Regions from separate parts of the Homo sapiens genome. Here regions 2 and 3 are each linked to region 1. Evidence: fine-mapped expression QTL. A gene starts in region 1. Each other region holds a variant in brackets. All regions are shown on one strand. Distances are between the middles of the regions. Region 1 holds the start of FAM111A (FAM111 trypsin like peptidase A). Region 2 overlaps GLYATL1B (glycine-N-acyltransferase like 1B). Region 3 has its middle 6.2 kb from the start of DTX4.

What was found.
Region 2: its variant is fine-mapped to the expression of FAM111A in tibial nerve (GTEx, PIP above 0.99). The same link has a PIP of 0.9 or more in sun-exposed skin and tibial artery.
Region 3: its variant is fine-mapped to the expression of FAM111A in whole blood (TOPMed, PIP above 0.99).

What each region holds. Positions count from the first base shown.
Region 1 is chr11:59,137,931-59,146,114 of GRCh38, reverse strand. It overlaps FAM111A (FAM111 trypsin like peptidase A), which reads right to left and starts at 3,259. Exons shown (of 6, transcript NM_001312909.2): 1 at 3,169-3,259; 2 at 2,811-3,032; 3 at 2,420-2,618; 4 at 259-288. It overlaps FAM111A-DT (FAM111A divergent transcript), which reads left to right and starts at 3,307. Exons shown (of 4, transcript NR_110184.1): 1 at 3,307-3,500; 2 at 5,948-6,158. It also overlaps the pseudogene LOC100422399. RefSeq lists enhancers at 1,564-1,673, 3,042-3,491.
Region 2 is chr11:59,092,038-59,100,221 of GRCh38, reverse strand. GLYATL1B (glycine-N-acyltransferase like 1B) reads right to left here. Exons shown (of 5, transcript NM_001355566.1): 3 at 6,567-6,693; 4 at 6,111-6,288; 5 at 5,436-5,853. The coding sequence ends at 5,436. It overlaps LOC105369315 (a long non-coding RNA gene), which reads left to right. Exons shown (of 3, transcript XR_007062680.1): 1 at 1-2,590; 2 at 2,776-2,903; 3 at 3,312-3,968. Among named protein-coding and RNA genes, the nearest start is that of GLYATL1B, 9.8 kb to the right of the region's middle. RefSeq lists enhancers at 2,293-2,462, 4,585-5,176 and a silencer at 3,076-3,185. The variant AG/G (reference allele first, on the strand shown) is at 4,447.
Region 3 is chr11:59,161,824-59,170,007 of GRCh38, reverse strand. No RefSeq gene overlaps it. Among named protein-coding and RNA genes, the nearest start is that of DTX4, 6.2 kb to the left of the region's middle. The variant A/G (reference allele first, on the strand shown) is at 4,835.

The sequences.
Region 1 (8,184 bases):
CAGAGCGAGACTTCATCTCTCTCTCTCTCTCTCTGTCACACACACACACACAATATATATATACACACATACACACACATATTATATATATTATATATGCAATCTATCTATATATACAGTGTGTGTAAATATATATATATATAGAGAGAGAGAGAGAGCATATGCAAAGCCTTTAAAACACTGCCTGTATGTAATAGGTCCCCCAGTAAATAATCAATAAAAAGGTCATGTAAATGTTATCAATATCAATACACTCACCACAGGGATACTTTTTAAACAGCAGAGAACCTAGGAAAAAAAATAGAAAATGTACAATTGCGGAACTGGGCTATGTTGCAACATCCCTAAATGCAAGAACTTGTTGCCCAACTATTAAGAAAATCTAGGGATTCACTGTGTCTGTTCATGATGTCTCATCTTACGAAGTTTGAGAGAGGATCCGGGTGCTTTAGGAATGATTAATAGACACAGACAAAAAAAGGAAAATAAAATGGGCAGAAAGAAACATTAATTTTGCATGTACTTGAGCAATCACAGTGGAAAGGGGCAAGAGGTTAAGAAAACACTCCAATATCCTCCGTCTCCCTACATTGTTTTCAGTATCCAGGATAAATCAGATTATATCAAAATATAAAGTGCTCTTAGCTATCCTATACCAACCCCTGTTTTATACTTGACATCAAGGTTCTACTTACCTAAAGAACTTGCTTGACTTCCTACAGCAAAGGGATAAAGCAGTGCAGCCTGGGGCCCATGTCCAGCCCACCTGACAGCTCCCCTTAGGAATTTCTCTGTCTCTCAATCTCTCCTTCCTTCCCTCTCTCCTTCCCCCTCTCTGCCTCTCTCCCTTTCCTCCCCTCCTTCACTCTCCCTCTTCCTCTCTCCCTTTCCTCCCCTCCTTCACTCTCCCTCTCTTCCTGCTTCTCCGCACCCCAACCCCCACTTTCTGCCTTTCCAGGGGCAAGGGCAGGGGTCGAGGCCAACTCTAAGCCTCTTCCAATCCTACCACGCCGCCCCGCTCCCCCCAGCACACAAGGGGACTTGCAGCACTACCAAAATAAAACCTGTGTCCTCCCGGCTCCCCAGATGGGTGGCGCTGTCAGTCCCCGGCTTCCTGACACCCAGCTCCTTCTCCTCCCAGCCGGGACTCGAGCCCGCCGCGGCCGCGCCCGTGACCGCGCCCCGCGGAGCACCCCAGCGCCCTGTGTGCTCACTCACTGCGCGCCTCGCCAGCACTCGGCCTGGAATCCAGCGCTCAACGCAGTTCCCGCTCGTATTTGAGGAAGCAAAGGCTCCAGAGCTCCAGCTGGGCGGGAAACGGAGCAGGTGGGGCTAGGGGTTTGAATCGCCCGCCTTTTGGGAAAAGGTTGTCTGCGAACCAATTGGTTACTTTCTTTCACTTTTAAATCAGCCGTGCCTCTTCCGGCCTAAACCTCAGGTAGCTACAGCGTGCAGTACTTGACGCTGTGTTTATATCAGACAGCACTGCCAGTCTGAAACAAAACTTTCTGAATTTCCTAATCCCCAGAGCCAGCGTGAGAAGTAGACTTGAGCCTGTTCTCTTCCCTTGAACTTTTCTTTTACACGAGTACAACAAAAAACAAGAACAGAGACAAGTCGTAGTGTTGCTAGTGATAAGGCAGATTTTTCACCAAGCCTAAAAAGCTTTTAAAAATCTGGTCCCATAACCAAAGGGGTTCCTAGAAAGATTTCTTTATGCCTAGGGACAAAATAAACTCAGCGCTTGAAAAACTGAGCAAAAAGAAACTGGAGTTCAACCTGATGCAAGATCTACTTTCTCCACCTTTGAGATCAGGGAGAGCCTCAAGAAGGTTGAAGGGACTTCAGGGCACACACTGATTCTGAGTTGAGGGTTGGGAGGTTGATTAGGTCTTGCTGGAGCCTCCAAGAATGTCAAATGTTGGCTCCCAGTAATATCAAAGCAACCTGTTGATAAGACAAAGCTAAGTTTCTTGCTCACTTAGGTAATGGAGAACAATAACTTGACAGAATTTAAGTGGTGTCTCAGAGAGGGAAGAGCAAGTTTGGGCTATATGTATTGAGATTTTGAAGTCCCATTGTAAGTCTAATATTTAATGAGGGGAATTGGTTAGAATTGAGTCAGCTACGGGTAAAAGTTTAGGATTGGTAGATAAAACAAGGCTAGGATTTTGAGGTAAAGGTTCAAAGTCTTAGAATGTAAACTGTTCTTTGATGTTTTCCATTGAAGAGTGGTTGGATCTTTGAAGAAGATACTGGATTAAGCAATAAAGATATTTGCAACTTTCCGGTCCCTGGCAAAAGTTTCTTGAAATAGTAAATGTATGTTGATGAAAATAATGGAATAAGAAGTCAGGTTAATGTAGTTGGCAAGCTATGTGAGTGTAGATGGCTTCAGTTCTCACAATAGTGAACATACCTGATAATGTACTCAACATTTGTCACTTAGAGTATTTTATCCTGGAAAGAAGCGTAGTTGGGAAAACGCACTTGAGATGATGTTTGCTGCACACAGAATTCGGACACAGAGATGTGAATCTCCTTAGGAACCATTTTCATAAAGTTAACATTGGGTCTTAATAGACATCAGTTTTTAAAAATTAGAACAGGCTTGGGCACTGCAAAAGAAAGACACATCCGTTCACTTGGCTGTTCTTTTTAAGTTTCCAGGGAGAGCGTCAGTGCCCCTTTCAACAATAAAAGCCCGCAGGAGTGCAGATTTTATTTACCCTGTCCCCACCAGCATCCTGCTGCGGCCAATGAATCCTGGCAAAACTCCAGGTCAGCCCCAGAACCAAAGAGTAACTCACCTAAGAGGAAGGTCCGTTCCCACCAAGTCTCAGACGCCTGAACTCGTGATTTTTAGGGACTTTCCCTTCCAGTCCCTTGGAATCCAGCACTTTGGTTGGAGAACAGAACTCACTTGGGGAATGGCGCGTCTGGCCAATGGAATGAAAGATACTGGAGTTTGTCTTTTCTCTTCAGGCAGCAACTCACCTACTTCGGAAGCCGATTGGCTGCGCTGGGGACACCTGTTGGCGTGCAAAAAAGAGTGGTTGGAAAGGCAAGGCCGAGGGGGCGCGCCTACCCTACCCACCCACAGCGCTCCTCCTTGACGCCGCGAGCAGGACCCTGTCTCACTGACCCCGTGCCCACGGCGGTCCTTGCCTGCTTCTATTCTCCCGGTTTCCCCAGTCCCGAGTATTGGAAAGCGAGAGCGAAAGCGAAAGCATCCTAGTCGCCGGTAGGCTGGCCTGGGCCGGGCTGGAGAGGGAGCAGGAAATAAAAACTCGGGTGTGGGAGGAGCTGGGACGCTGGCGGCAGAGCCACTGTGGCAGCTTGAGTCTCGCGCGCGCAGGAAGCGGAGGTGGAAGTTGGGGCGCAGGAATGTGGCTGTCCCCGCCTGTAAATCATGGTTGGGGAGGAGTCGCGGAGGCACCAGGCTGGGGTCTGCAGCGCGCCATCTGCTGCAGCACACAGGAGGCGCTGAGGCTAGTTGGGTAAGTGGGGAGATTTCAGGCACTTCCGAGGGGGCGGCATCCCCAGCAGGTGGGATAGGCCCGGTGACTAGGACAAAATCACGAAGAAGCCGCGGATGCAGGAAGAGTAAACTCCCTTGTCATAAATCGATTCTCCAAACGTTCATCAATATGTGGAGACGTTTATGATAGTGATGAAGAAGATGATATGGGCTCTAGGAATATGCATCTCAAAGCTGATGATCGAAGAAGATTGGAGAGGGTTTTCAAGGCAGCCTGCTGTTTAAGGACCTGCATTCTGAGTAGATGTGTATTGGAAAAGGCGATTACAGTCACAAAGGGGACAACTTTTATGCAATTGACAGAGGACTATATGATGTATATAAACAGATAGGGTTGAAAGGTGTGTTGGTAACTACAAAACACATGGGAATTTGAAGGAAGGAACTGGCCTTAAATGCATGTACAATACACCAAGAGAAGCTAAAATTACTGCTTCATCTTCTGTGGGTTCTTTGGGGTTTGGATAGAGTAACCTTAAAACATATTTGAATGCTGACTTTTTCTATGAGACTCACTTTTGGAATCTGTGCATTCCTACATTCACAAAGGGTAATCACAGCTAGTACCCAGCATCCAAACAATAGCAGCCAATAATTCTAATCTGGAGAAAATTTTCTTTTCTCTCTCTTTCTCTCTCTCTCTCTCTTTCTTTCTTTCTCTTTCTTTCTTTCTTTCTCTTTCTTTTTTTCTTTTTCTTTCCTTCTTTCTTTCTCTTTTTTCTTTTCTTCTTCATTCCTTCCTTCCTTTCTTCCTTTCTTTTTTCTCTTTATTTCTTCTCTTTCTTTCTTTCTTCTTTCTTTTTTCTTTTATCTTTCTTTCTTTCTCACTTTTCTCCTTCCCTCCCTCCCTCCTTTCTTCCTTCTTTCTCTTTTGCCTGTTTTACATTTTAATGTGTAAGCAAATAGTGATTAAAGGACAATAGGCTTAACATTTTCTAAAACATGGGTGTTCAGAATTGAATATACTGATAAAATTTGTTTCCAAAAGGAAGGATTATATACTAGGTGGGAGTGTAAATTAGTTCAACCATTGTGGAAAACAGTGTGGCAATTCCTCAAAGACTTAAAAACAGAACTACCATTCAACCCAGCAATCCCATGACTGGGTATGTACCCAAAGGAATATAAATCATTCTTTCATAAAGACACACGAACACGTATGTTCCTTGCAGCGCTGTTCACAATAGCAAAGAATCAACCTAAATGCCTATCAGTGGTAGGCTGGATAAAGAAAACTCAGTATACCATTGAATACTACACAGCCATAAAAAATAATGAGATCATGTCCTGTACAGGGACATGGATGGAGCTAGAGGCCATTATTCTTGGCAAACTAATGCAGGAACAGAAATCAAATACTGCATATTATCACTTATACGTGGGAGCTAAATGATGAGAACACATGGACACGCAGAGGGGAACAACAGACGCTGGGGCCTATCGGAGGGTGGTGGATGGAAGAAGGGAGAGGATCGGGAAAAACAACTAATGGGTACTAGGCTTAATACCTTGGTGGTGAAATAATCTGTACATCAAACCCCCATGACATGAGTTTATCTATATAGCAGACCTGCACATGTACCACTAAACTTAAATAAAGCTTTTAAAAAAGTTTTCAATCTACGAAGTTGAGATTTACTAGAAAGGTTATTCAAATGACTTTGACATATTGAAATATTAGTGCACAAGGAGATAATAAAAAGTTATTATTATAGAAGATATAAAACTTGTACCACCTAATATCTGTGCAACTAAATCTACTATGTACCAAGATATTTATCAATATTCTTTCTGAAATTTTTATGTCGTTTTGTATAATTTTAATCATATTTCTTTTAAAAACATTTATGGCATGATAAGTTATGTGTTGGCTTATTGCGGAAAGGGCCTAAAATAACAATTCTTAAACTTTATATATATTTGCAATGAAATATATTTTGGCTTTAGACAATAGGAACATAACCTTTTTTTGGATGAAAGATTACTGTCACATTTTTTCTTCATTATCTGACATCTTTGTCATTTTCTTAACTTATATTACTAATTAAAGTTCCCTACCTTTTCAAAAGAAAAAAAGTCTAATATTGACATTTATTTATCTGTAGCAAACTTTAGCTATTGTTTTTTCTACTAATTTCAGGCAAAAATGAAGTATTAATTTCAGTTACAAAATATAGCTTAGTAAGATCTAAACCAAATAAAATTCACATTCTAAAGACTACAAACAAGTTTTAAAAAGATATTTTGGCCATTAAACTTATTTATTAAATTTAACTTTTGTCTTCTAAGAACCAGAGTTCTTACAATTACTATGAAGCTCCTATTCTATAATCATAGCCTGGGTTCCTTGTCAATGCTTCATTAAACAGGCTATTTTTTTCTTTTTTCTTTTTTCTTTTTTTTTAGAGACAGAGTCTCACTGTGTCACCCAGGCTGGAGTGAAGTGGCATGATCTTGGCTTACTGAAACCTCCATCTCCCAGGTTCAAGCGATTCTCATGCCTCAGCCACTTGAGTAGCTGGGACTACAGGATTTCGCCATGTTCCCCAGGCTGGTCTCAAACTCCTGAACTCAGGCAGCCCGCCTACCTTGGCCTCCCAAAGTGCTAGGATTACAGGTATGAACCACCGCGCCCGGCCAGTTTCTTAATTCTTAGACTAAATCTACGGGGGACACACTTTTGCCAACATTAGCTGCAAAGGGTTTTTTCCTCCACACTTAAGTCACGGTCAGTAAGTAGTTTTTTTTTTTTTCCTGTGTTTTTGTTTCCTTGTTTGTTTTTATTTGGGAAAATGCCTCTTTTGATAGTAATGAATTATTTTTTACACGCAAGGTCAAAAACAGCATGGAGTGAATTTTCTTCCACACGTATACACCCTTTTTTATTCCTGCCTCTGGCTGTAAATAGTTGCACAGTTAAAAGCAGGATGGACTTAACGGAGTATCATTTATATTTATAATTGCTGTATTTGTAATTCTGCTACAGAAATGAATTCTGTTATTATAATCAAAGGTTACACTGTTATCTGAATTCTTGAAAAATATGTAAAAATACTGCTCTTGTGGCTTTTCATAGGTTTATAGTCTATAAACACTAATTTTAATCAATAATTCATATCATTTATGATTAATTTTATGAGAAACAGATAACAATAATAGACATAGGCATAATTATTTTGTGACAGCTGGTGTGTTTGGAGTATTTACTATCACCCTTAAATATGATACCCTGGCTGGAAAACATTAATTTGATAACATACCTTTAAGAAATTATATAAAATATGCAAAAGCATAACCTTATGCACATTTTTAAAACAAGGCCTTCTTGTAGGAAAAAGATTACACCATGCATGAAGATGTTTTGTTTTCTATCATTATTTGAATTTATTTTAAAGGCCATTACTGCTCTGTGTGTGTATATATATATATATACATAAATATACATATATATACACACACGTATGAAACCAAAAATTCCAGGTTCATCATATTATACACAGATTTTCTTTTTTGTTGCCCTTATTCTTAATCATTGAAAGCACTGAAAATCAATACCTGTTTGATAAGATGTGCAATCAAGTTAAAAATATCACAGTTATTATATATAAAACTTTCTTAAGATTACTTTTGTAGTAACCTTTAAAAGGGGTGGTGGTGGTGTGGGATCCCTTGGCAAAGTCCAACTTGGCTGCTTAACTGCTTTCATTGGCCTGGCTAACACTTATGTCTGCCCACGGAAGCAGCAGGGAGTGTGTAGAGGGAAATGACCTCTGCTGCTGTACTGCTTTGAGTTCCTCTCTGAGCTTGGCATTTACATGTGTCTGTTTCATTTAATACTCTCAATAACCCTGTGGGGAAGGTGAGATTATCTTCGCCATTTCACAAAAAGCTTTAGCAAATAATTGTGCAGAAACATCCTTATGAGGATTTGTATTCCCATCTGAAACTAGAAGCCAAACTTATTCTATTGAATGATGGCTGCCTCTCAGATCTAACTGCAAAAAGGCACAGTGGCTTACTTCTTCCTAGTATAATGCTTTTTCATTAATCCAATAATCTATTCAAGGTATAAATTTCGGGTGGCAATTTACAAGATCCGGTGCCACATTCTATGAAGGGTAAAATGTTGACCCCTGCCCTCAAATAGGGAAGACAGAAGAGGTACACAAATAATATCATTTCCACATGGTTTCATTCATTTAAGAGATGTGTTAATTCCTACTTTGTGCCAGGTATTGTACTGGACATTGGGGAACAGAGGTGAATGAATATGATTCTCACATTCATGGACCCAGAGCAGTTTAATGCAATATTGTATCTAAGCCTAGTGCTTTTCCAGGTCACGTCTCATAGCCTATCCAATATATTAAAATGCACACACATTCTATATTAAATACACGTTTGCTGTTTAATCTAGTTTGAAGTACTTGGAGAATTGGAAGAACCAGTGGCCGAGTGTGGAAAATTGTTCTCAGATCTTCCCCCTTCCCTGTACACACACTGGTTGCCAGGTGCCTTTGCAGTTGCTCTCCACCCCATCAATGTTGGGCTTTGGGCAGTAGAATATAGACAGAATTAACACTGTGCTGAGCTCGACCCTGAAAGCCACTGCGTCTTTATGTTTGCCTCTGTCCTGGTTCTGT
Region 2 (8,184 bases), 46 kb after region 1:
TAAAGAAGGATTCTTTAAATGGATGCGACACACTGCAAGGGAAATTCTGTGACACCTGGAACTAAAACACATGGAACTAAAACATCGGTCTCAGGGGGTTGAACGGTAGAGGAATAAAAGCATTTTGTATCACTTAGCACACTCGTCTGGATCAGAGGAGGGAGCAAAACAGGGAAATGAATCTATTGGAAGATATCAACTTATTGAGGTAAAGGAGGAAATGGTGAATAGCTGTTACTTTATTTTATATAATAGTAAAAAAATTTGTGTTCAATTATGAGCACTAGAAACAAATACCAGTGATTGAATAAAAAGTTAATAAGGGAATATGATGTATAAGTGAGTTAATAAGAGAACTTGAGGGATAAGTGAATTAATAAGAGTCCACAGTGGAGGCAATTTCCCCTTTTGAAAAACATTATCTTTTGAATATATGCAGGATATACTTTGCAAAAGAAAAAAAGTGTATATTGGGGAAAGAATTTTCACTCATTCTCGAGACACTCAATACTTTTCCCTAGATAATCTATGGCTATAAAAGCATAATAATGCCTTTTTAATATATTTTCCCAGCAACTAAGAAGTTCAGTGTTTATAATTGTAATAAGAAGCGTGCTGATCTGGCCTGAAATATAGTTTTACTTTAGATATATGTCTCATAAATAGTATTTGAGAAGTCAGGGAATATGCTTAGAAAGGGATTACCAAGGCCCTATAACACATGAGTTTGAGGGCACAGGGAGATTAAGATTTAGAACAAAGTTAGGTGAAATCTAGGGCCAAAGGATAGCAGGGTGTGTGTGTGTGAGTGTGTGTGTGTGTGTGTGTGTGTGTTGGGTGGGGCAGGTGGGAACCTTTGGAGAATGCCTGTAGGCTGCTAGTGAGGTGCTATGATCTCTAGACCTTGGTAGGTCCTTGCAAAGAGACATGGTTCTGAAAGGTTGGCACCCTTATAGGTTCTTAAAATATTTTCGTTATCCATAGGGGTGAACCTGGAGATCATTACCAAAGTTTAAAAATTTCACCACTGGGCACACAGGTTACCCTTCTCGTGGTGGCATGGCAAAGCTTGATTTGCAAGAGTTTCTTTTGGATTGTCCCCAATGATTCCCTTTAAAAATAGGAGCTCCTTCAGGGTAAGGAAGGAAGGAGAAAATATCCCTTCTAACCTATTTTCTCTTTTTCATTCCAAGGACTCTGGAAAGGCACAGCAGGTTTGGTTTTGAAATCTGTAGAATTTTAGTGCTCTCCATTCTCCCAAGTAGATGACTTTAGTGAAGGTAAAAGGAAAGACTGTTTGCTGTGTCAAGGGAAGATTCATATGCAAATCCCAAGACTCAGATGTTATTTCAGAAGAGTTGGTGTCCATAGTAAAGTAGAACTGGCCCGGGTTCATCTGCCTACAAGGGCAATTGTCTGAGGCAAATATGAGGAAACTGGCAGAACAGGAGGGGTGGAATCTTCCTGGGAGAAAGAGTAAAGAGAGTTCTAGGTGGAGAGGGGATCAATATGTTGAGCAAACACCTGGCTGTCTTCTTAGTTCCTATATGAAATCATGGAAAAGACTTTAGAACAAAGAATAAATATGTCATAGCAGGAAAACAAAGAGCAGTCTTTTGGCCAGAAATAGAAACTGTTAAAAAGAAAAACAAACCAACAACAAAAAAAAAAACACCTTTAAGTTTGAAAATGACAGAAGTTAAGAAGTGGAAAGTTGCCTGGGATATGCTTTTATTGCAGCCTCTCTAGTAAACCCGTCCCCACTTCATCTTTGTGTCTTTGCTTATCCTAAGCAGCATGGTGGCAGCCATGGCATTCTTCAGGCTGAAGTGGTCATTTTTGGCACTTGGGCTTGAGATGGCAGTGAAGCGGCATCGTTTGTCTGGGGAAATGCCAGAGGTTTGCTGTCTCACAGTATGGAAATTGTAGATGTGGACACCAAAGGAGTGGGTTTAAGAGCAAAAGTTTAATAGGCAAAAGAACAAAGAGAGAGTTTCCTCATGCATTGGAAGGGTGCCTGAGCAGGTTTCCGGGTTTGGGGCGAGTTGTGGTTGGTTTTATAGAGGAGCTTGAGGAGGCAGTGTCTGATTTACATAGGGCTCAGAGGGTTGGTTGGAGCAGGTGTGCTATTTATGTGATGCACGAAGAGCCTGGCCATCCCACATGAATCTTTAGTATGCAAACGGGGCCTCTACCTGGCCTGTGCCGTGTCGCCTGCACAAGTGAAGACAAAGAAAAGGAAATAGGCGGCCAGGCGTGGTAGCTCATGACTGTAATCCTAGCACATTTGGAGGCCAAGGACGGTGGATCACGAGAGGTCAGGAGTTCAAGACCAGCCTGGCGAAGATGGTGAAACCCTGCCTCTACTAAAAAAACACGAAAAAAAAAATTAGCCATGCGTGATGGTGGGCACCTGTAATCTCAGCTACTCAGGAGGCTGAGGGAGAGAATTGCTTGAACCCAGGAGGGGGAGGTTGTAGTGAGCTGAGAATGCACCACTGCACTCCAGACTGAGTGACAGAGCAGGATTCCATCTGAAAAAAAAAAATAGGAAGAGGAAACCTCTATGTTGAGTACGCCTGACTTCCAGGTATCCCTTTTCTATTTGCATAGGTGCCGGCATTTACCTATGCAAGCTTTTAGCATGCTTGCGGCTTGATTTTTTAGGCTGATTTTCGCTAGAAAAGCGATTATATGGGGGCTGCTTTTTATTAAAAGAAAAACCTTACTGAGGACTCTCTTACCTACACTAACTGCTTAATAATTTCTTTTTAGCTCCTGTATCAGCAGTGCTTGTGCCTGATAGGTGATGATCATGAGGGGGACCAGGAGCCTCTAGACTTAAGAGACAAGTTGCCAGCATTCTCCAGATGGAGTGTTTCCCTCCCCAGCACCACCTGCTGGTCAGTTTGACAAGCAGATGAAGGGAAGTTCTCAAATACACAATAAGCAGATAACCCCAACATCACCAGAAATAGCAAGTTGTGATGGCAGTTTGTCAAATTGTCTTTATTTTTTGTCAGCATCATCTGTTGCTTTCTGAGGGAAGTTTTTTGAGTTCTCCCACTGAGACTGTGGATTTGCATTTTTCTTTTGTATGTCTGTCAGCTTTTGCCATGTATAGTTTGTAGTTGTGTTGTGTTGTGAGGCAGATTCATGACCTATGTTGTGGGAGAATTTCTGTATTTAGCAGATGTTCAACTTACGTTCTATTTTGCCAAGTGTTGATGGTATTACTTTGCTTTTCAGTTTCACGTTCATTTAGTATATCTTCTTCCTTTCCGTGAACCCTTGTGTGTTGTTTATTTCAGATATGCTTCCTTATGAACTGACGGTGACTCCCAAATTCATATGTTGAAGACCCAACTCCCAACGGACTTGGAGGTGGGCCTTTGAGAAGTAATTGGGTTTAGATTAAGTCATAAGGGTGGAGCCCCCTTGATGGTATTAAGTCCTTCTAAGAAAAGGAAGAGAGTCTGAGCTCTCCTCTGTCTCCACCATGTGAGGGCACAGAGATGTATGCTTCTTGGATTTTGTTTTTAACTCAGTATGAAAAACATATATTTTAATAAGAAAATTACCCCATTCATTGTTAGTGTGTTTATTGATAATGTTGGACTTACTTGTGCCATATTTAAGAAATCCTCTTTCATCCTTCCCATGCTTTCTTGTTGTTTTTTTAATGCAAGTGCATGATAAGGTTTAGGGATCACTTTTTTAACAGGTCCACGAAGGGCTAGATAAGGGAAGCTGGTTTGCGTTCAGGGAAGCGGCAGAGGAGGGAAGCTGGCAGCTGGGCTGTGCTAAGATGACCTTAGCCCCAGACCCTGGATGAACATCCTCTTCTGGATACAGGACCTGCCCGAGGCATCATTTTGAAATAGTCAAATTTTATTTGCTTTGTGTTCTTTCATCACATATATTAGCTTTTGCCTCTTGAGTGCCAAAATATAGCTGTTTTTATATTACCCCAAGTTCCTGAGTTTATTTTTTAGGTAAGAATTTTCCACCCTTTGAAATCCCAAATGACATGTTTACTCTCTTTCTCAGACCATGCTTTCATTTCAGTCAATGTAACAAATCAGCCAGGTCTCAGGAGTTTAGAAATCTGATTGGATTGATTTATACTAAGCGGTAACAGATCTACCACAGCCTTCTAAGATGAATTGGAGTTTCTTAAAAACTCCATGACCTACACTATTCTTTAGGTGCTGGAATTGCACACTTTCAAATCACATCAAGTATAAACATTCAATTTTGTGGGGGGTTATTTTCTATGGAGAGATGAGGTGTTGATTAATACTGGTAGGCTTTACTCCAAAAGACAATTCTATTAAGATTTCTTTTGTTTTTTAAAATCTAGACTATCAGAAGGAGTAAAAATGCCAATTTTTTTTTTCTTTTTGCTGTGGCTACAATGTTCACAGTAATCCAAGCTCCAATGAC[AG/G]GGGGGGAGAGCGGAGCCAAATGAGGCCCCGTTTTTTTCATGAAGTGTATTTTTCTTTTTTTTTTTGAGATCAGGGGTTCAGAAATTGTAATATAAGTGTTCAATTATAAAGTTATTATGATAGTGCATGGCACGTGTCCTTTCCATCATCTGGATTTTTCCACTTTTACTGTATGGCTCACTCTTACTCACTCTCCAGTCTTCACCTTAGTGGTCACTTCCCCCTGAAATGCCCTTGACCCCTTAAGATAGCAGTGCTGCAAACATCGTAAGCTGAATTTATAGCCAGACTCACAGGCAACACCTTATCTTGTGCCATGCTTCACTAATGATGAGGAAGTGAGAAAGAGTAGGGGAAAGGAGGCACAACAAATGTCATTTCCATAACAGAGGCCTCAAGGCCAGCCCACTTGATTCTCTGGAGATCCTTTTCTGCATAACAATGATGAAAGGTAGCCTAAGAAAGCCATTTGTCTGAGGCTTCACCTTTGATACCTTGCTAGACACTAAACTAAGAGACTGATTCCATTCTTTAGTATAGCCATTGCCTCATAAATCCATACATAACAGGGGTATTTCTTTCCAATAAAGTATCCATATAGATTAGGTATATTCTATTGACAATTTTATTAAAGTTCTTCATTTATCTTCCAGATAGTAGATTCTATCAACCAAGTTTCATAAAGAGTTCTGATTCCCAGAGGTAAGAACTGAGCCTGGCTTTCTAGTTACATGTTTATTGGTAACTCTGTCCTTCCCTACAACACTTAAGCATATTTAAAGACTATACCCTCCCCTGCCTCCAGCTTGGATTGTAAGCTCCTCAAGAGCATGGCTGTGTCCTTTAACATCAAGTCTCCATGTGAGAAAGAGTTCCTGCCATATCACAAATGCCCAATCAACATTTGTAAGTGAAGAAAGCTATTCTGTGGTGTCTGCTTTAATATTAAGAGATGGCTTGCCCAAGATTGCTAAGCAGCTTCATTGTCTACAATGGAACAAGATTCTGTGGGTAGCAGTTCCATTGGTGCCACTGACAGGAGGCCTCAAGGAAACCTAGTGCACTAGTCTTTCTGATGACGCCTTGATTTTCTTCCAGCACAGAGCCGTAAAATGGAATATTCTTCTGACACAGATACTTCATGCATCGCATGATCAGCCGTGTCCCATTGCCTCTCCTTCGGTATTTTTCCACACTGTAGCCCATTCCTATTTCACAAGAAGGGTCCATGGTTACCCATGAGACCGGGACCCCCTCTGGGCCCAGCATACAGGCTGCTGGCAGGGCTCCTAGGCAGCGCTTGATGTAACGCAGGCTCCTCTTATTCATCCCTAGCTTCCAGTTGTCATTTACCAGCCCAGAATAAGACACATTCAGCTGGGCATACTTAAAGTTCGGAGTCTCGCTGTAGAAAACAAAAAGAAAGACAACAACTTTCATCCCCACTCCTGTAATTTCTAGGTGCCCTTCCATTCTAGAGATCCCAGGCCCTCTTCTTGTTAAAAGACCCACCATTGCAAAGTGGCGTATTTTGACCACTGACAACCTTTATTCATCCCAAGGAATGAATTCATCCTCTCTTCATTCCAAAACTGATTTATGTGAATTACAAAAATGTACAAGGAATAGCAATTATAAATGATCAGCACATGTTTTTTGTACCTCTCCAATTCGTCATCTGGGTGGCCTGTCTCAGCCCAGCTTCCAAGCTTGCTTTTATTGGTGGCATAGAGCTTCAGGATATCTTCCGTAACAAAGAGGAGTGCTCTCGAATGCTCTACCTTCACTGAATTTGAAAATGCAGCTGCTCTTATCCCCTCACCTAAACTTTCTTGAAAACCTGAGAGAAAGCCAAGAAAGCAATATTGTCAGACATGCAGTTCTCTACTTACACTGCTCACACCTGATTAATGCCTCAGTGCTTAGTAGTTCTCAAAGTTGAGTTTACACCACAATCAGCTATAGTCCTTGGCACACCACAGATTGCTCCACCTCTCCCAGCTCTGAGAATTTCAAGGAATTTACATTTCTAATGAGCTCTCAGGTGATGCTAATGCTGTTAGTTGAAGACACAATTTGAGAAGCACAGCTGCTTGCCCATTTCTTCAGACTTGTTACCTTGGATTTGGAGTTTCTGTTTCCAGTTTATGATCTCAGAATTTTTCAAAACTTCTTGTGATTTTTGAGGGTCTTTGGAGAATACACGATATACATTAGTGTATGAATCCATGTCATCAGTCATCTCCTGTGTAGGATGGTGAAAGGTCAGATCATTCCCTTGAACTTTTTCTTCTCCTCTCACTGATTGCAATTATTAGAAAAATGAAAATTCAAAAGAAAGTTTTAGCACTAGCCCACGATGGCTGCAGTTGGGCACGTGGATAATATAAGTGAGACCTATAAGCTACTGCTGACCTCTTACCTGTGTAACTGGAGTTTGTTAAATATTGAACACTGACAGTTACTGGTTATAAACCTGCTTCTCAGATACATAACAAAGACAGGATGAAATCAGTCACCCTCCACCAGGCCTTAAGATGCCTCACTTTTCTCCCTACCCACTCAACTGCACACTTACCTTATTTTATATATAGCATCACAGAGCGCCCAGCAGAAGCAAAGGAATGCAACAATTGCTTCTCTCCCTGCTTCTCTCACCTCCTGGACCACACATATCCCCCTGTTATATATACTGTGCCCCACATAACCCCCTGTGGGACATATTCTGGGTTGTACTGAGTCCGTGTTGATAGGGTTAAGTTCTTAAGCTCGGCACAAGATGAATTTAACCATGATTTCTCTAAGTTATAGTGCCTACTGTTTCACCAGACACCTACAATCTATATTGTTCTAGAATCTGCAGTGTCCAGGGTTTGAGCAAGATACTTTAGTGAATATAAACATTAAGGAGACATTGCCTTTTCCCAAGGCTACAGGATATCAGCCTCTTTGAAGAGTGACATGGCCTTTACAGCCAGAAGCCCACAAAATAGAATGAAGTAACTGAATTTTCCGTAGCACTCTGCGCAATTTATGTGGTGTTAGACTCATGGGTTTTAAAGAAAGATACTTGTGATCTCATTCTCACAAGCCACAAACTTCATGGGACGATGAGTATCTGTTTATCAGGGGAAATATAAACAATAAGTGTGAGTTTTAGCAGTGCATGTATTAATATTATGTTGAAAATTGTATTGTTAAGGAGTAAAAGAGAAAATAGTGTAACTAATTTTAAAGAAACCTTCAAGAATTTGAGGATGCTTTTATAAATGCAAGTTCCTGAATATGGCCAAAACACAACACCTCAGTGAATTTAAAAGAGTAGATGTTTTAAAAGACCGGATTTTAAAAGAATGACTGAACATAGCCAAGTAAATATTCAAAGAATTATAAAAAGAATATCAAAGTAGACTAGAAAATAACAAATGGAACAATTTGTAAAAATGAAAGCCATAAATAATGAAATGTAGAACAAGACACAGTGCAAATGATATATAAAGCCAAAAGTTCATTTTTAAATGGCAAAAAGAAAGAGCAGAAGAGAGAGAGAGATAAACTTCTGGTAAGGCATTTAAAGGAAATAGAAGAGAAAGAGAAAAAAGAAAAAAAAAAGGCATAGAGTATGAGCCATGAGAATGGAAACAGAAAAGGAAAAAGACTTATAATAGAAGATTATATACTACTCCAAGGCAACATATTCACTGATAAAGAAATGGATGTTATCCCTCAAGAATAA
Region 3 (8,184 bases), 24 kb before region 1:
TACACACAAATGAGAGGGGTCTTTAAAATTTTATGGAAAATGCATATTATGAAAAAACTAGGCTGGTAGTTCAAATTGTTTTTTTGCACCCAAATAAACTCATACTAACTTGTTATAACATGTCTGAACAGGATCTAGTTTGAGACACTAAGAAGGGTAAGACAATGCCCTTACTGAAGAGGATCAAGGATTAGCAGTCAAAACAATAGCCTACACCATAGATATGTCAACTGGTTCAGCTTACACAATTCTGACAAAGAAATTAAACTTTCCATTCCTTGATAGGTGCCAAAACCATTGCACCCAGGTTGGCCACAGACAAGAGCAGGCCTTTCAATAGAGATTTTAAATGGGTGGGATCAGGATCATGAAACATTTCTTTGAAGAATTGTAACAGGAGATGAAACATTACCAGTATAATCCTGATGACAAGGAACAACCAAAGCAATGGCTATCAAGAGGTAGAAGTGGTCCAGTCAAAGCAAAAGTGCACTGGTCAAAAGCAGAGACCATGGCAACAATTTTTTGGAGATGCTCAAGGCATTTTACTTACTGACTTTCTGGAGGGCCAGAGAACAATAACATCTGCCTAATATGAGAGTATTTTGCAAAAATTAGCAACAGCTTTAGGATAAAATACCTGGGAAAGCTTCACCAGAGTCGTTCTCCACCATGGCAATGTTCATGCTCATTCCTCTCATCAAACAAACGCACTTTTGTGAGCAATTTGATGGAAAATCTTTTAATCTGCTGTACAGTCCTGATTTGGCTCCTCTGACTTCTTTTTGTTTCCTAATCTTAAAAAATTTTTTAAAGAGCATCTGTTTTTCTATAGTAAAGTAAAACTGCATTGATATGGTTAGGGTCCCAGGACACTCAGTTCTTTAGTGATGGACTAAATGATTCATATCATCACCTACAAAATATCTTGAACTTGATGGTGCTTATGTTGAGAAATAAAGTGTACATTTTTTATTTTGTTTTTTAATTTTATTTTTCACAAACTTTTGGAAGTCCCCTCGTGTTTGTGTGTGTATGACTTGACATTAATAGTAAATTATAGATGTAAAATATTTGTATTTTAATAATCCATGATAATTTATAGTTTATCATGACCCAATTAGAAATAATAATTTATAATTATGTATAAATAATTATTATATATGTATATACATTTCTTAGATCTTCTAACACAATCCTAATTTCAAATAATCTGTACCATAAACCCTGAAAATCTCAGAAATTCCATTTTATTTATTTATTTATTTTTTGAGACAAAATCTTGCTCTTGTCCCCTAGGCTGGAGTGCAATGGCATGATCTCGGCTCACTGCAACCTCCTCCTCCCAGGTTCAAGCGATTCTCCTGCCTCAGCCTCCCCAGTAGCTAGGATTACAGGTGCCTGTGACCAGGCCCGGCTAATTTTTGTAGTTTTAGTAGAGATGGGGTTTCACCATGTTGGCCAGGCTGGTCTCGAACTCCGGACTCAGGTGATCCGCCCGCCTTGGCCTCCCAAAGTGCTGGGATTACAGGCATGAGCCACCGTGCCTGGCCGACATTCCATTTTAGTATCCAAACTATATCTCCCAAATTGTCTCCTGTACTCATAAGTGGCATAAAAATCTTTAACCAAATGATATGCCAAATTTTTAATTTGAACATATGATGGCTATAATAAAACCTCACTAATTGAGACTATGAAGCCAGTTTTGAACTGTTCAAAGGTACAATTTGATGATACTTCAAAAAAGGTCGTCATTGTCTAACACAAAGATTCAGTGAAAAAGCCGCTTCTCTTCTTTTTCTGTGGAATGTTCATAGACAAAGCCCTTTTTTTTTTCAATTACCTATTATTATGTAATAAAGCACCCTAAAACTGGTGGCTAAAAACAGCAGCAAGCGTTTATTTTTCAAACACATCTGCACTTTGGGGAGGGCTTCCAAGGACAGCTGGTCTTTGCTACACACAGCATTAGCTCAAGGGAGCTCTCAGGAAAGCAGGTGGCTGGAATCATCTGTAGGTTTGCTCATTCATAAGTCTACTGCTTGATACTGGCTGTTATCTGGGCACTCAACTAGGGCTATCAGCCCAAGTACCTACACATGGCCTGTCCATGTGATTGATGGGCATTCTCACAACACAGAAGTTAGTTTCCAAATAAACGAGAGGCAAGAGAAAAAGCCAGGCAGAAGATGCATTGCATTTTAATTTTTTATTTTAAAATAATTTAAATTCACATGCAGTTATAAGAAACAGACAGAGCCTGTGTATCCTCAACATCCCATAAAACTATAGGAAAACTATAGTGCAATACCATTGCTGATATTGACACAGTTAAGATACAGAATGGTTACAATTCTGCTCCATTATTGATATAATACCATTGTGTCACACATTATACAATACACATTTTGTATACAATATACATTTTCCACACCACAAGGATTTCTCATGTTGCCCTAAAAGGTCACACCCACTAATTCCTCCCCACTACCATCCTGTCCATAACTCCTGGCAATAACTAATATGTTCTCCATATTTATGATTTTGTCATTTCAAGAATATTATGCAAATGGATCATAGAGCATTCAATCTTTTAAGATAGGCTTTTTCCACTCAGCTTAATTCTCTAAAGATTCATCCAAGTTGTGTGTATCAAGAGAAGTTTGTTTCTTTTTATTGCTAAGTAGTGTTCCATAGTATCCATGGACCACCTTACTGTTCATCCATGGAAGTTCATATAAGTTGTTTCTAGTTTGGGCTATTATGAATAAAGCTACTATGAACACTCTCATCCAGGTTTTTGTGTGAAGGTAAAGTATCCATTTCTCTGTGATAAATGCCTAGGAGTACAATGGCAAGGTCATAGGGTAGTTGCATGTTTAGCTTTTTTAACAAACTGCCAGTTTTCTAAAGTGGCTGCACCATTTTGAATTTTCACCAGCAATATACCCATGATCTGGTCACTACATCTTCACCATCATTTTTTGGTCAGTATATTTTATTTTAGCCATTTTGGTAAGTGTGTAGAGTTATTTCATTGTTTTTAACTTGTTTCCTTATTGACTAATAATGTTGAACATCTTTCCATGCGTTTATTTGCCATATATGCTCTTTGATATCTGTTCAGGTCTTTTGCTGGTTTCTGTTTTCTATTATTGAAATTAGAGAGTTCTTTTTATATTCTAAATATTGGGCTGGGCACAGTGGCTCAAGCTTGTAATCCTAGCACTTTGGGAAGCCCAGTCAGGAGTTCGATTGCCTGAGCTCAAGAGCTGGAGATCAGCATGGGCAACATGGGGAAACCCTGTCTCTACAAAAAATACAAAAATTAGCTGGCCGCGGTGGTGCAGGCTTGTGGTTTCACCTACTTGTGAGGCTGAGGTGGGAGGATCGCTTGAGTCTGGGAGGTTGAGGCTGCAGTGAGCTGTGATGGTGATGTTGCACTCCAGCCTGGGCAACAGAGTGAATCCTAGTCTCAAATAAATAAATAAATAAATACTCTTGGTGGATATATAGTTTGAAAATATTTTTTCTCAATCTGTAGCTTATGTTTTCCATGCTCTTCATAGCGTCTTTCACAAAACAAAAGTTTTTTAATTTGATAAAATACAACTTACCAAATTTTTTTTTTCTAAATGGCTTCTGTTTCCCATGTTAATTTTAAGAACTCTTTGGCTAGTCCTAAGATTTGAATATTTTTTTCCTCTGTTTTGTTCTAAAACTTTCATACTTTTACAACTTCCATGTAAATCTACAATCCATTCTGAGTTAAATTTTTGTGTATGGAGTGAGGTTTGAGTGTCTTTTTATGTGTTTATTTGCCTATAGATGTATTGTCCTAGCGCTATTTGTTGAAAAGGCTTTTCTTCCTCCTTTGAATTGCTTTTGAGTCTTTGTAAAAAAATCAGTCTGGCATATTTGTGTAGATCTATTTCTGGTTTCTCTAGTCTGTTCCATTGACCTATATGTCTGTCCCTTCACCACTACTGCACAATGTTGATTAATAAGCTGTATTAATAAGCTATGTAATGTCTTATTGTAAATTGGGTAGATTGATTCATCTCACTTTATTCTTCTTCAAAATTGTTTAGGCTATTCTGGATCCTTTGATTTCCACATAAATACTAGAATAATCTTGTCTATATGTGCAAAAATTCTTGCTGGGATTTTGATAGGAATTGCATTGAAGCTGTATATCAATTTGAGGAGAATTGACATATTTTTACTGTGTTAAGTCTTCCAATCCATAAACACGATATGGATATGCTTCTCTATTTATTTAGATCTTCTTTGTTTTATGTGTTTTCTAGTTTTCAGCATACCTATCCAGTTCATTTTTTGCTCAATGTACACTTAAGTAGTTCATTTTGTTTCAGAGTGATTATATTAATAAATGGCATTCTATTTTTAATTTTGGTTCCACGTACTTATTGCTGGTACATATAAATACAATGGATTTTTGTATGTTTATTTAGTATCTTGTAAGCTTGCTAAGGAGTCCAAATCTGGGTCTAAGAGTTCTTTTATAGATTCCTTAGGAGTTTACATGTCATCTCCAAATAGGGACAATTTTGTTTCTTCATTTCTGATCCTTATGCTTTTCTTTTCTTTTCTTTTCTTTCTTTCTTTTTTTTTTTGAGACGGAGTCTTGCTCTGTCGCCCAGGCTGGAGTGCAGTGACGCAATCTCGGCTCACTGCAAGCTCCGCCTCCCAGGTTCACGCCATTCCCCTGCCTCAGCCTCCCGAGTACCTGGGACTACAGGCGCCCGCCACCACGCCTGGCTAATTTTTTGTATTTTTAGTAGAGACGGGGTTTCACTGGGTTAGCCAG[A/G]ATGGTCTTGATCTCCTGACCTCGTGATCCGCCCGCCTTGGCCTCCCAAAGTGCTGGGATTACAGGCGTGAGCCACCGCGCCCGGCCGATCCTTATGTTTTTCATTTCCTTTTCTTGCCTTACTTAGAATTGTATTACCTGGAATTTCCAGTACTATGTTTAATACAGTTGTGAGAATAGACATTCTTGCCTTGTTTCTGATCTTAGATAACATCTAGTTTTTCACTAAGAACTGTGATAATAGCTGTAGGTGTTCATTTTAGATGTTCTTTATCAAGTTGAGGAAGTTTTCCTCTATCCTTATTTTTCTGAGAGTTTTTTAAATCATGAACAGATATTGAGTTTTATTAAATGCTTTTTTGGTATCAATTGATATGATCATGAGATTTTGTTTCTTCAGACTGCTAATATGGTGGATTGCATTGATTTTCAAATACTTAATGAGATGTGCATCCCTGGAATAAACCCCACTTTGTCATAGTGTATAATTATTATAAAATATTGCTATATTTCATTTGTTAAAGTTTTCAGGGGGCTGGGCATGGTGGTGCATACCTGTAGTCCAACTTCAGAGGTTAAGGCAAAAGGGTACCTTGAGCCCAGGATTTCAAGGTTACAGTGAGCTATGATGAGCCACTGCACTCCAGCCTGGGTGACAGAGGAAGAGCCTGTCTCAAAAAAAAAAAAAAAAAAAAAAATTGGCGGTGGTCTATATTTATAAAGAATCTTGGTGTATAGTTTTCTTTTCTCTTTCTTTTGTTAAATTAAGCTTAGCCTAAAGCTACCTCCTTACATACTTTAAGTTTAACCTAAACGTTTCTCAATACATAGTGAACTATAACTTAACCGAATGTGGAAACAGACTAGCCTACTTTTGTAGCAACTACCTGAGTCTCAGCCAATCACAGAAGCAATACTTCAACCACTCACAGGAGGCCAACTGTTCCAATAGTGTTCAAACAAGGTAAATGCTGCGCTGTAGCCAAGGCAACTGTTTCTTTTCTTTTCTTTTTTCTTCTTTTTTAAACTTTTTATTTCAAAATACTTTCTAAAATTGTATTTTAAAATTGACACATGATTGTACATATTTATGGGGTACATAGTGATGTTTTGATACATATAATATATAGTGATCAGATCAGGGTAACTAGCATATACGTCCACCTCAAACATTTATCATTTCTTTTTGTTGGGAACATTTAATATCCTCCTAGATATTTGAGTTGCTCTCTTATTGTATAGAAACAAGGCTGCTGTTTCTATACCTCACTTTCATTTTCTCTAAGCTACTTTCCTTTCTCTGTCCATAAATTATCTTCAACTAAGTGGCAGTGTTGGAGTGTCTCCCAATCTATTCTAGTTCTGTGGAGTTGCCTGATTCTCGAATTGTTCTTTGCTCTGTAAAATTCTGTTAAATTAAATTTGTCTAAAGTTTGTCTTTTAATACTTTCATTTTGGGAGGGGTGGTATCAGAATAATACTAGCTTCATAAAAATGAATTGGGAAGTTTTCTACCCTCTTCTATTTTCTGAAACAGACTGTATAGAATTGGTGTTAATTCTTCTTTAAAAGTTTGATAGAATTGTCCAGTAAAAGCATCTAGCCCTGGAGATGTCTTTTTCAGAAGATTTTAAATTACAAATTCAATTTCCTTAATAGAGCGCTATTCAAATTACCTATTTCATATCGGATGAGTTGTGGTCATTTGTATTTTTTAAGGGATTGGTCCATTTTATACAAGTTGTCAAATTTATGTGTGGAGTTGTTCATAATGTGTGCTTATTATACTTTTGATATCTTCAAGGGCTGTGGTGATAACATGGCTTCATTCTTGATGTTATTGGCAATTTGGTTTTCTCCCCCCACCTCTCCCTTTCTCCTTCCCTCCTTCCCTGCCAGTCTCGCTAAGCAGTATGTCAATTTCATGTATTTTTTTTTTCAAAAGAACCAACTCATTGTTTATTTTGGCTCTTATCTTTATTATTGTCTTAATTTGGCTACCTATTTTGCTCTTTTTTTAGATTATTATAGTAAAAGCTGATATTATTGGTTTGAGGCTTTTCCTCTTTCCTAATGTAAGCATTTAGTGCTATTGATTTTCCTCTCACCATGGCTTTGGCTGTGTCCCACAAATTTTGAGACGCTTTATTTTCACCTTTATTCAGTTCAATGTCTTTTTAAATTTCTCCTGAGTCTTCTTCTTTAACCTACGCACTATCTGAGGTGGGAGGATCATGAGGTCAGGAGATCGAGACCATCCTGGCTAACAAGGTGAAACCCCGTCTCTACTAAAAATACAAAAAAAAAAATTAGCTGTGCGTGGTGGCGGGAGCCTGTAGTCCCAGCTCCTTGGGAGGCTGAGGCAGGAGAATGGCATGAACCCGGGAGGCAGAGCTTGCAGTGAGGCGAGATCGCACCACTGCACTCCAGCCAGGGTGACAGAGTGAGACTCCGTCTCAAAAAAAAAAAAAAAAAGAAAGAAAGAAAGAAAGAAAGAAAGAAGTGAGAAGTGTGCTGTTTGGCTTTCAAATGTTTGGAGGTTTTTCTGTTATTGTTAGGTTATTGATTCCTAGTTTGATCCCATTGTAGCCCAGAGGACACACTCAATATGATTTCAACTCTTTCAAATTTGTTGAGGTTTGTGTCATGGCCTAGGATATGATCTATCTTTGTATTCACTCTGTGGGTGCTTGAAAAGAATGTGTACTCTACTGTTGGATGAAGTGTTCTATAAATGACCAGTAGACCCTGTTGGTTTATCATGTTGTTCCGTTCTTCCATATCCAGGCTGATTTTCTGTATAGTTGTTCTATAAGTTGTTGAGAGAGGAGGATGTTGAGTTCTCTAACTATAATTGTGGATTTGCCTATTATCCTTTTAGTTATATCAGGATTTGCTTAACATATTTTGTCACTTTGTTGTTTTGTGCTTGCACACCTGTAATTACTGTGTCTTTTAGGTGATCAATCCTTTTATTATTATATAATAGCACTCTCTGTCTCTGGTAATTTTCTCTGATCTGAAGTCTATTTTATTTAATATTTATAGTGGTGGACTTGGACCACACATTATCAGCACCACTTCTGGAGGATCTGGAGACTAAGGTCAGCCATATCTACATGAATAGCCCCCAGTAAAAACCCTGACACTGAAGCTCAGGTGAGCTTCCCTGGCTGATGATACTTCATGTGTATTGTCACACATTGTGGCTGGGAGAAATAGCACTATCTATACAACTCCACTGGGAAGAGACAGCTGGGGCATAAATCTGAAAAGACTGAACAAGCTCTATATGAAGAAAACTACAAAATTCCGATAAATGAAATCAAAGAATGACTAAATACATGGAG